Homo sapiens: one gene and its partners. The protein of the gene in region 3 purifies or fractionates together with the protein of the main gene of each other region. This does not show direct contact. Each region holds a gene or a part of one and is shown on either strand. Other genes may lie near its edges. The genes, in order: USP53, EPN3 and ALKBH5.

Region 1 (3,648 bases), on a different chromosome or scaffold from region 3:
GGCCAATTACTAAAACTCGGATCCTTGCTAGATTTAGGCTTATTACTGATATTTGGTTTATGTCTTGGACTATGCTGTCTTTTTTCACTTTCACTAAAAATACTATCAACATTTAATGTTTCTCTCATAGGTTTCCAACCTCGGTTCCGGCTTTTACTGCTGCTATCACAGCTGTTTCCTCTATCCCTAGAATCTTGGCTGCTGTCTGTGTCATATCCAGTGCCATTGTCACTCTTAACTTTGCCAGTTATTTTCTCTCCTGGAGCAAGAATCTGGGATTTACTTGAACTTATTATTTGTGCAGAAGCTCGACTCTGAGGTACAACTCGGTCATGTTTATATGATCCTTTTCCTTGACTATGATATAGATGTGGATTCCCATGTTGTTTAAAACCATTTGGGGCAGGAGGTGATCCAGATTGGAAATGTGAAAGGTCTTCATCAACCAAATCTTAAAAAAAAAAATTAAAGATACACATGAATTACTCCTCAGAGCCACCTTGTAGTCACAAGGCAAATACCTGTTAGAGATAAAATGTTAAAGAGTTTTAGGTAAATAGTAATTACAAGTACATATCACATACTGCTTTGAGATTAAAAAGTGATTTTCCAGTCCTTGTGTATGCTTAATGAGGGGTATTTGTAAAAGAAACTTCAAAAAATGATCTCTAAGGTAGATCATAATTGAGGCAGTTTTTAAAAAAATAAGCACTCTATCTCACTCATAACAAAAATCATAAAAATATTTTCCACTTCTTATATTGGTAAAGATTTAAAAGTTTGTTAAACCAATTGTTGCTGAGAGTGTGAACAAACAGACATCCAATCATTGTTGGTGGGAGTGCAGACTAGTTCAGTCTTTCAAGAGGGCAACTGAGCCACATCTGTCAAAATTAAAAGTAAACATATCCTGACCCAGAAATTCCTCTGAAGGAATTTTATGCTATGGCTCTAGGCAAAAACGTATAAAGGTATGTGTGAAAAAAGATGTTGCTGAAGCAAAAATCTTAAATCAGCCTGTAAAGTCTATCACTATCAGTTAAATTATGCTCTGTCCATAAAGAAAAAAGCATAGAACCATAAAGAGACATGCTTATAATGTGGAAATGGAAATACTAAGTAAAGAGGGGGAAGGTCAGGGATTGCCAGAAAAGGAGTCCCTTCACTTAATTTTATAAACTTCCTTATTACTTGAATGTGCCATGAGTGAATTATATCTGTAAGTAAGTTAAAACATCGAAACACATATATACAAGTATCCCAGGTTAGAATTAAGAACAAACCAGGATATTTTGCATATTTAGATTTAGTATAGGTGTATTAAAGAACTCATATTAATAAATATATAAAATATAATAGGTCTGGGTACCCCTGTAATCCCAGCACTTTGGGAGGCTGAGGTAAGAGGATCGTTTGAGGCCAGCAGTTCAAGACCACTCTGAGCAACATGGCAAGACCCTATCTCTACAAATAACTTTTTAAAATTTAGCCAGGTGTGGTGGCATGTGCCTGTAGTCCTAGCTACTCAGGAGGCTAAGACGTGAGGAGAGCTTGAACCCAGGAGTTCAAGACTGCAGAGAGCTATGATTGTGTCACTGCACTCTAGGCTGGACAAGAGTGAACTCTCACCTCTTCAAAATAAAGTTATTAAAAATAACTTTAATATAATTTAATTTCTATATATAAACTATATAAATTATATATAATTTATATATTTATACATATACAGAAATATATGTAATTTATATATTTCTATATTAGATATAGGTATATATATTTAACTTATATATTTATGTATTTTTAATATATATTATTTAACATATACAGAAATTAAAGTTATAAAATTCAGTTTTAAAATAAGATTTTTAGAAGTTCCTTTTAAAATCAATAGTACAAGATCTTAACTTACCTCTATGTCGTCCTAAATCTTTTCTTTGTCCCTTCTCTAAATCTTTCCTTTGTGAAGAAAGTAAGTTTTTCTGTTCAATAGCTTTCAGAGCACATTCTCTGGAAATGTCTTTTATCTTTTCCCTTTGATCAATGTGACTTAACTTAGCTGTAAAAGAAATCATTCTTACTATGATACAGATCATTTTTCAAATTGCCCAATAAAAATAAAAATTGATCTATATAAAAATGTTAAGATATATTTAAAAAGAGCATAGATATGTAGATATATAGTATACAATGGTATTTTTATGATTAAAAACTAGATGTGATTTTTCTTGACACTGGAGATGCATGTTGTATTTTAAAACTCCTTGTATAGCCCCTAAAACAAGTATAAAAAAAGAAAGAGATCTGCCATTAAAATAATAAGAGCTAAAGGTAACTGAATGGTCACTATTTGCCAGTTGTCTTACTCATTTACTTCTTTGAGGTACAATTACTGTCTCTATTTTGGGTAAGGAAACTGAGGCAGAGAGAAATTAGAAATTTGCCCAAGTTCACAAAGTTTGTAAGTCTAGAACCAGGAATATGAACCCAAGTTGTCTTGTTCCAATGCTTCTATTCTTACACACATATATACTATTTCTGGGCTTAAAACTAGGTGTCTTTTGAAAAACATAAAATGTCTGAATCTAAGAGTATCAATAATCTGTGAAAGGAAAAGAGATACAGCTTCATTAAGAATTTTTAAAAAGCCTTTATTTTAGTTTTTTGTGGATAACTGTTAATTCTCAATCTTACTACCCTTGATTAAATGAGTTACTTTTATGATTACACATTATTTCATTAATATGTTTAAAGGTTGCTAACAAAATCATCCTGAACATCCACACAAGAGTTAGATGTATTTCTAAACTGTAATGGTACACAGTATTGTGAGGTTTCATTCTGGACCCAAGTTACAGAACCTGGCTTGTAAAAATTAGTTATGGGATAACAGTAACAAGACAGAGTTGAATAAAAACGAGGTTAAGAACAAACTACAGCAATAGTAACTTTGAACTGCTGTTGCATTCACTACCAGTAAATTTAATTTTGGCATTTATGCCAAATTACTAACTCATGTTTTTCTGCTCCAAGCTGATAATTAACTCCTTGAATGAAATGCCACATTATTGCTTTATTTGGTAACTGTCCAGATTGCCTCAGGCCTACCACAGTCTGAGTGCATGAAGAAACTCAAACAACTCATGGAATCAAACTGGTCAGGTAAAACTACAGCTCTCAGAGAAATGCATAAATCAAAAGACGAATTTTGTTATCTATTTGTTATTATCTTTTCACAGCCAAGGAAAGCTAGGTAAGCATCCTCCGATAAGTGAAGAAAGGAGGACACTCACTTGGAACTATGTAAAAATGACAATTTAAACACATACCTGGTCCTTTCCCTACACCTGTGTGACTGTGGCTCCGATTAGATGATGAAATATTATCAGTTGGAAATTTCTGATTTTCTCTCTGCTTTGCCTGATCACCAAATCCATTTTCTTTTAAATTATCTGACTTATGAATTACAGGCTTTTCACATCCTTAAAAAGAGAAGCAAAAATGTATCATTCCTTTCCTTCCCATGAGAAGAGATGTTTGAATCATTTTTTTCAGATTTTTTTTTTTTTTTTTTTTGAGACGGAGTCTCGCTCTGTCGCCCAGGCCGGACTGCGGACTGCAGTGGCGCAATCTCGGCTCACTGCAAGCTCC
Region 2 (4,260 bases), about 32 Mb from region 3:
AGGAAAATCAGGGGAGACTTCCTAGAGGAGGTGGTGACAGAGCTGAGATCCAAGATCACAAGGGAAGAGTAAGGAGGAGTGAACCAGCAAGTCAGGGGAGGGCGGCTCAGAAGAAATGCTATGACCTGGGCCAGAAGGCAAGAGAGCAAGTATCGTTTGAGGAAGACTGCCCCTCAGAGTTCTGGCCACTGCCAACACTCCTGCATGCCACCCCCACGTACACATGGAAGTGTTGAGGCCAGAGAGGGGATGGGACCTGCCTGCATCATATGGCACGTAAGTGGCAGAGCCTGGACTACCATCCAGGACTCCAGAAGACTAATCCAATTCTTATTGTCAGTGTTACCCAGTTTGGTCATTATTTCATCGGATTGCTTTACTGTCTCAGTCCCACCTTCTCAGCTAGAATGGAAGCTCCCTGAGAGTAGGAACAGTCTGGGTTCTCCAAAGCCCCAAAACGCTGGACACATAGTGGACCTCTGGTACCCCAGCAGGGAGAAGAGCTGGGCCAGCCCAATTCCCCCCAGTAGCCACAGGTCCAGGCTATCTGCTGAATACAACTCCAGGCCCAAGGTCCTCCCAAAGGCCCTTTCAGAAACCAAAAGAGGAATTCCCTGACCACCACCATTCCTCCCACACTAGCACTGGTGTGTGCATGCACACACACACTGTCTGGGCCTGCAGAGCCTCCACTTCACCCGTGAACTGTCCCCCACCCACCAAACACCTTTCGGCTCCACCCTCCATCCCAGCCCGTGCCCCAACTGGTCCCCAGGCTGCCAGAAGCAGGAATCTGAAGGAGACTGTCCTCTCGCACCCGATTCCACGCTCCTTCCACCCCAGCCCCGCCAGTGCTGGGCTCAGTTCAAAGCAGCCCCACGCTTTGAAAACATGCCTTGGCAGGTTTTGTTGGGGGCCCAGAGAATAAGATACCGTGGGAGTGGGCGAGGTGGAGAGTGCCTGGCCCACAGCGCAGCCTACCTTTTGTCTGCTATCTCTTTCCTTCCAGCGGGTCGTGGGCCTTCTGTGGGAATGCCACGGCCACAACTTGTTTAACTCCTGCCCTCCCCCTTGCTAGTGACTCAGACCTGCCTTCACCTCCCCAACCCGTGGCTGGGGGTGGCAGAGTCAAGATGGGAAATAATGTGCACCAAAGCCCGCCCAGCACACGCCCCTACCGGCTGGCCGCTGGAACTAGCAGAACCAGTCGGGCACTGTGACTGCACCAGAGCCCTACCTGGACCTGGCTGCCCTGGCCCTCCGGCCTGGCCTGTGTGGGGGCACCAGCCTCTGGGAGGGGACTCTCGGTGTGGGCCCAGCGGCCCTGCCTGGACCTTTCTCACAGAAGGTGGGCATTCTCTGCACACCCCTGCAGGGGCTGGGGGGAAGGGCGGGGCCAGAAACATGGGGAGGCACCTTGATTTTCCTTCTCTGGAGTTTGAGGGGACAAGGTGAGGCTGCCCAAGCACAGAGAAGGGAGGAGGAAAGGAAGAAGCCTGCCCAAGCGCAGAGAAGGGAGGAGGAAAGGAAGAAGCCTGCCCAAGCGCAGAGAAGGGAGGAGGAAAGGAAGGAACGCGGGAACGCGGGAGGGAGCAGCTGGGAGCGCTGCCAGCAGTGTTACAAGCAAAGGGTTTTATCGAACACGATATGCCCAGAAATAAAAGGGAGTGTAACAGAAACCCAGCGGCCGATAAGGCGGTGGCGGTAGCAGCAGCAGCCCTGGGCAGCTGGGTATGGAATTACTGCAGTGACCTTGAGCCAGACCCTGTCAGGTGGAGGGAAGGGCACAGAGAGGGCAGGGCCTGAGAATTCAGAGATGACGAGAGGGCAGAGGAGGGAGGAAGCTGAGGGGATGGGAGCAGGGCCAGCAGGCGGTGGGATGGGCCACGGGGCACGGAGTATCAGCTCTCTCCTGCATACAGGGTCCCAAGGAGAACTGCGCAGTAGGGAGGGGCTGCTCTTCTCAGGGCCTGCAGGATGGGGGGATCTGGAGAGTTTCCCAAAAGTCAGGACCGAAAAATGCAGATCGCTCATCCCCAGCAAGGGTTTCGGAGAGATGGAGAGAACCCAGATCTGTCCAGTCACACGTGCATGAGTTTGCGTAAAGTCTGTGCACCCACCAGCCCAGCCCACACCCTCTTCCCGTCCTCTGCTAAGGTGGGCTCCAGCCCCTGCCTCCAAGTCAGATCCAGCCTGAGCAGTGGGGAATGACAGTGCCCTTCTTGATGCTGTAAGGGACAGGGGGTGAGCTTGAACTCTAAGCTTCTGGCCACTGTAATAGCTGCATCCCGGGAGCACAGAAGATGGGGGAGGGGGGACTGCCCTGAGGCTAGAGGTGTGCATGAGGGGCTGAAGAAGAGGAAACAGCAGAGATGTGCAGAAGGAGTCTGTGGGGAATGCCACCAAAGATGCTAAGATGCCACCAAAGATGCTAAGTCCCAGGATGGTTGGGGAGGGGGCCCTGAGTCCCTTTTTGGGGGCGGCAGGGAGGGAGGGGTGGCAGGAAAGAAGCCTTTAGGTCCTCTACAGCTCAGCCTTCTCCCTCGCACCTGGAAAAGAGACTAAGCCCCAGAACCACTGTTTGCTCCCCACCAACCCCCGCCTTCCATGCCGCCACTGCCAGGGAGGGGGCCAGGGAGGAAGCTTACCTCCAGTGCGGGCTCCCTCGGCCCCAGCCCCAGCCCGAGTAGCCTCTGCGGTGACCCTCCGACCTGTGCAGCAGCGGGACGGCACAGCCTCGGGAGCGTCTCCAGAGCCATCCACCATGGACCCTCGTCCCAGAGACCCACCTGCTCCCAGGAGGTGCAGACCCCTCAGAGGGGCAGCGGCAGGGTCCCTGGAATGGGTAGCAGCTCTTCCCGCGTGCGTTTGCCTCCTAGCCAGCGCCAGGCAGCACTCCGAGGAAAGTTGCTCAGCTGGCCCGGCAGGTCTGCCTCAGCAGTAACAGGACACAGGAGGAAGTGCAGGGCAGGTTAACCCCTTCCTGCTGGCCAGGCAAGTGGTGCATTGAGAGGTGGGGGGCCTGCCTGTTGGCCGCCCCCAGGAAGTGCACATCTGGAGCCAGTGCTGGCGACCTGATCCCCTCTGCTTTGAGTTAACCCTTCCCCTGCCTCTTCAACAGGAAAGGAGGGGGGCTCCAACACCCCCACCACACCCCTCCCCTTCCTCCTCTGGGCCGGGAGGACATTAAAGGAGAGGGCAGGGACATTCCCTGGGGCTGGCTCTTTGGTGGAGCCCCCGTCTTCTCGTCTTCTTGGGGAGGAGAGCATCAGGACTCCAGCACAGCCCCCTCCCTGCCTTTCCCACACGGAGTCAGATCCTTCTGTCCATCCTCCCCCTCCTGCATCTCAGCTGGAGGATGCCTGAGGCCCACTTAAGGATGCCCACCCACCCAAAAACCAAAGTTGTTCTTCAAACTCTGGGAGCCTGGAGTGCTCTTCACACAGGGAGCCCAGCCCCAAATGGTTATGACTGACAGAAGACAATGAGGGGCCTGAGTTTGAGCTGACAATACCTTTTTTTCTGAGAGCCATTTCTAGCCTGTTTCATGTTCCCCTGAGCAAGGGAGGTAGCATGAAGATCAGCAGCTGTTTTTAAGGCAGAAAGATGGCTCAAGGCCAGATAGTTTGAGATGAGGAGGGGGATAAGGCAGACTAGACCCCGAAATAACAAGGTGATGTGGCCTCTAGAGCTGAAGAGGTGTGGTGAGCATGATCTTCAGGGACTGAATTGGGGCCCTGGGACCCAGCTGAAGAGGGGAGATGGCAGGGAGCCAGGTCCCATGGGTCTAGTTCTACTCCTCATCTCACACTTTGTCATACTTGGTGATGACACTTCGGGAAGACCTGGCTCCAGGAAGCACGACCCTGAAAGTGTGGGCCAAGGAAGCCAGAGGCAGGGACTACCAGAGGTGACACACTGTCCTGTCACCTGACTCCTTGTCTTGCTACCAATCTGCTCCTCTGCTTGGCATCCCACACATCACTTCCCCAGCTATGTCTGTCTGTCCTCCTGCAGGAGGGCTCTGGCAGCTGGCAGGAGGGGATCTGAGGGCAGGTGGAACATGGGAGGACCTGGATCAGGAGCTGACCTAGCCAAGATCCATCATGCAAGACACAGAGGCACACGGAAGTAGTAGAAACTTGAAGGTTCTTTATTGATTTATTTATTAACCCGTTTTCCAGAAGGTTGCTTGGGCCCGAGAGTCACCTGCAGAGGCGCAAAGCCTCCTCGACATTCTTTATGGGGCTGAGCTCATCA
Region 3 (3,648 bases):
TGAGCTGCAGCAGTTCTACACACCCAGAAACTCAGCCACAAGCCTAGTAGGACAAGTATGGCTTAGTTTCCCTACCTGGCCCTGTACCACAAACCCTTCTCTCATGGCTGCTGATCAGCTCCCTTCTCAAAGGCTAGTTGTACAGACACAAACTTAACTATTAAAAACACTGCAGGCCTGGGAAGGACCCCTCAAGATGGCCAGGCTGGCCAAACCTCAGCTCTAATAACTGGATGCAAGAGCCAACAAGAGATAAAAAGCCAGACTGCTTCAGGCTCAGCCTTAAGGAAGCACCTCTGATTTGGAAATCTGATTTGAGCTCATGCTGGGGATAGAACAAACCTTTATTTTATTTAATTTTTTTTTTTTTTGAGACAGTCTCACTCTGTCACCCAGGTTGGAGTGCAGTGGCACAATCTCGGCTCACTGCAACCTCTGCCTACCGGGTTCAAGCGATTCTCCTGCCTCAGCCTCCCAAGTAGCTGGGACTACAGGCGCACCCCACCACGCCTGTCTAATTTTTGTTATTTTCAGTAGAGATGGGGTTTCACTATGTTGGTCAGGATGGTCTTGAACTCCTGACCTCGTGATCCGCCAGCCTCGGCCTCCCAAAGTGCTGGGATTACAGGTGTGAGCCACCGCGCCCGGCCCAAACCTTTATTTTATAGATCCACCTTCTCCCTCAAGCTGCTCCTAGACAAGAATTTTTCAAAATTTTCTCCATGAACACCAGTCCCATAAGAGACAGTAGACAGGCTAGGCACGGTGGCTCACGCCTGTAATCCCACCCAGCACTTTGGGAGGCCAAGGTGGGCATGTTGCCTGAGGTTAGGAGTTCGTAACCAGTCTGGCCGACATGGTGAAACCCCGTCTCTACAAAAATACAAAAATAAGCCAGGCATGATGGCAGGTGCCTGTAATTCCAGCTATCGCAGAGGCTGAGGCAGGAGAATCGCTGAACCTGGGAGGTGGAGGTTGCCGTGAGCCGAGATAGTGCCACTGCACTCCAGCCTGGGTGACAGAGTGAGACTCCGTCTCAAAAAAAAAAAAAAAAAAAAAAAGAAAAAGACAGTGGACGAATGTCTACAGTGAAATCAATTTGTAAAATACTGATTAGAGTTTCAAAAAGCATTAATATATTTAAAGCACATGAGAATTACTACAGCAAAAGAACCCACTGACTTTGAGCACTTACCAAAGAACCTTCTCTCATAATACCTATTAATACCCATCAGCCCACAGTGAGAAGTACCACACAGGAGTTAGTGAGTTGAAGAGACCTGGGTTCAAATGTGAGCTTTGTCTCCTACTAGCTTTGTGACCTTTGTTAAATCACATGCTGAACCTAAAAACCTGTACAGTTTCTTCATCTGTAATAAGGAGAACAGTAGGTTCTTGGGTATTCATTTTGTTATGCTTTATAATTTAGCTATTCTTTTGCTGCTACTAATATTACAAGATTTTAAAAATGGGGACAGTTTTAAAGATTACAAGATTAAAGTTTTTAAGATTACAAGATTTTAAAAACGGGGCCTCCTCCCTTCCAGGCAGAAAAACAGCATTATATGACTACTTGGTTGACACTCCTGGAAAGGGGTGGTGAGAGGCCTACCTGCAGGGGTATTGCGAGAATTAAGTCAGATAATGCAGGGTGCCTGACACCCTACAATCTTTACTAAGCACTCTGACAAAAGTCAGAGGGCCCTGGACTATCCTGGGGCAAGCCAGAGCCCTGGATTCAGCATCTGCCAAAGAGACATGGTCTGGGCTCCCCCTGCAGGGATCTGCCAGTAGTGGGGGCCGCCTGGGCCCCATTTCCAGAGCTAGGAACTCTAGTTCTCATCCCATGCTTTTATCATTCCACACTGGGGGAATGGGGGTCTAGACTGCAAGACTGTCCCATATAGACACACAATACTTTCCCAAAGAGCTGTCAAAGGTCTCAAAGGCACTTTTTTTTTTTTTTAAAGACAGAGTCTCACTCTGTTGCCCAGGCTGGAGTGCAGTGGCATGATCTTGGCTCACTGTAACCTCCACGTCCCAGGTTCAAGCAATTCTCCTGCCTCAGACCCCCAAGTAACTGGGACTACAGGCTAATTTTTGTATGTTTAGTGAAGACTGTTTCCCCATGTTGGCCAGGCTGGTCTCGATCTCCTGATCACACGTGATCCACCCACCTCGGCCTCCCAAAGTGCTGGGATTACAAGTGTGAGCCACCATGCTCGGCCCCAGAGGCACGTTTCTAAGTCCTGAATCTGCAGTGCTGGCTACAGGCAACCTTCCCTGCCATTGACAAGTGTTATCAATCTGTTTGACTTGGCTATATGCATAACCAAGGGCCCTGACTTCCCATCTCCAACAAGGAACCACTTTTCTTAATGCAGTTCTGGAGCAAATCCAGATGTTTGTCAAAGCTTGACTGCCCGCATGCTCCCTGACCCCATCCCCCAAAGGGCTCTAGAACAAACAATAAGCCATGTCAGGTTCCTGCCACGGAGCCCAGGCCTTGGAAGAACTAGTATGGAGGTAGGGCTGCACAGGCCCACAAAAATGACTTTGGCACTGACCCAACCTGGAAGGCTTATTAGTACTGGTCTTCTAGAACTTCCTAGCAGCTATGACACAGCCCACTGACCCTTTCCTCAGAATATCCGGCTGCTCTGGCAACATGAGCTCAAAGTCCTGATTAAGGGAAGCTCTCCTGGCCAATCTCACAAAATGTCGAGCAGAGACCACAGGGTATTATTTACTATTAAGGAACCTACTTGCTACAAAATAAATTGTCTGAAAGTCTCAGTCGGCCAGCTTGCAACTTAATATGCCCTTGGGTCCAGCCCTACTGCTGGCATGAAAAGTTCCAGGACCTCCTGCTTTTTTGTTTTCACAGGGAAAGGAGAAGAGGAAATAACCTTATGCCATCTGGCTTGCCTGCTCCCTCTCTGGGCTGAGCCCCCAGCCCCAGCCCCAGAGGCACTGACCAGTATATGTTGCAAATGTCACCCACTAGTCCTATACCTCAGAGTGACTCTCGAAGGAGCTGACATGTCTATCTCCTCTTTTGGGGGCCTTTCCCTGACTGCCCAGGCTGGGTTCCCCCTACATTGCTCAACCACACCCTCTCATGCCTCTTTGCTATTCCATCTGGCCTTGTGGAAATTGTGTCTTCCCTTCAAGACAAAGCTCTTCAAAGGCCTTACTCATCCCTGCACAGTGGACACTAAATGAAATGTGTGTTGAGCTGAACTATTCTACCACTTAGAACCTGTTTCTGCCTCTGCAAAACAAAGATCACAGCAAGCCCCTCCTCAGAAGATTAGGTGCAAATTAAATGAGGTGTCTGAAATTTTTTTTTTTTTTTTTTTTTTCGGAAACAGAGTCCCACTCTGTTGCCTAGGCTGGAATGCAGTGGCGCAATCTTGGCTCACTGCAACCTCTAGCTCCTGGGTTCAAGCAATTCTCTGCCTCAGCCTCCCGAGTAGCTGGGATTACAGGTGCCTGCCACCACGCCCGGCTAATTTTTGTATTTTTAGTAGAGACGGGCTTTCACCATCTTGGCCATTCTTGTCTTGAATTCCTGACCTCAGGTGATCCACCCGCCCTGGCCTCCCAAAGTGCTGGGATTACAGGCATGAGCCACCGCACCTGGCC

Evidence for each region.
Region 1: the proteins of ALKBH5 (region 3) and USP53 purify together in Homo sapiens (affinity purification with mass spectrometry, with the first as the bait; one large-scale study listed by BioGRID). This does not show direct contact.
Region 2: the proteins of ALKBH5 (region 3) and EPN3 fractionate together in Homo sapiens (co-fractionation; one large-scale study listed by BioGRID). This does not show direct contact.

Annotation. Positions count from the first base shown.
Region 1 is NC_000004.12:119,268,099-119,271,746, reverse strand, and holds part of USP53 (ubiquitin carboxyl-terminal hydrolase 53), read right to left. Parts: intron 3,480-3,648; coding exon 3,327-3,479; intron 2,057-3,326; coding exon 1,910-2,056; intron 452-1,909; coding exon 1-451. UniProt on the Homo sapiens protein: Deubiquitinase that mediates 'Lys-63'-linked deubiquitination of tight junction proteins, such as MARVELD2 and LSR, and which is involved in the survival of auditory hair cells and hearing.
Region 2 is NC_000017.11:50,531,374-50,535,633, reverse strand, and holds the start of EPN3 (epsin-3), read right to left. Parts: upstream 2,900-4,260; 5' UTR 2,649-2,899; intron 1-2,648.
Region 3 is NC_000017.11:18,190,268-18,193,915, reverse strand, and holds part of ALKBH5 (RNA demethylase ALKBH5), read right to left. Parts: intron 1-3,648.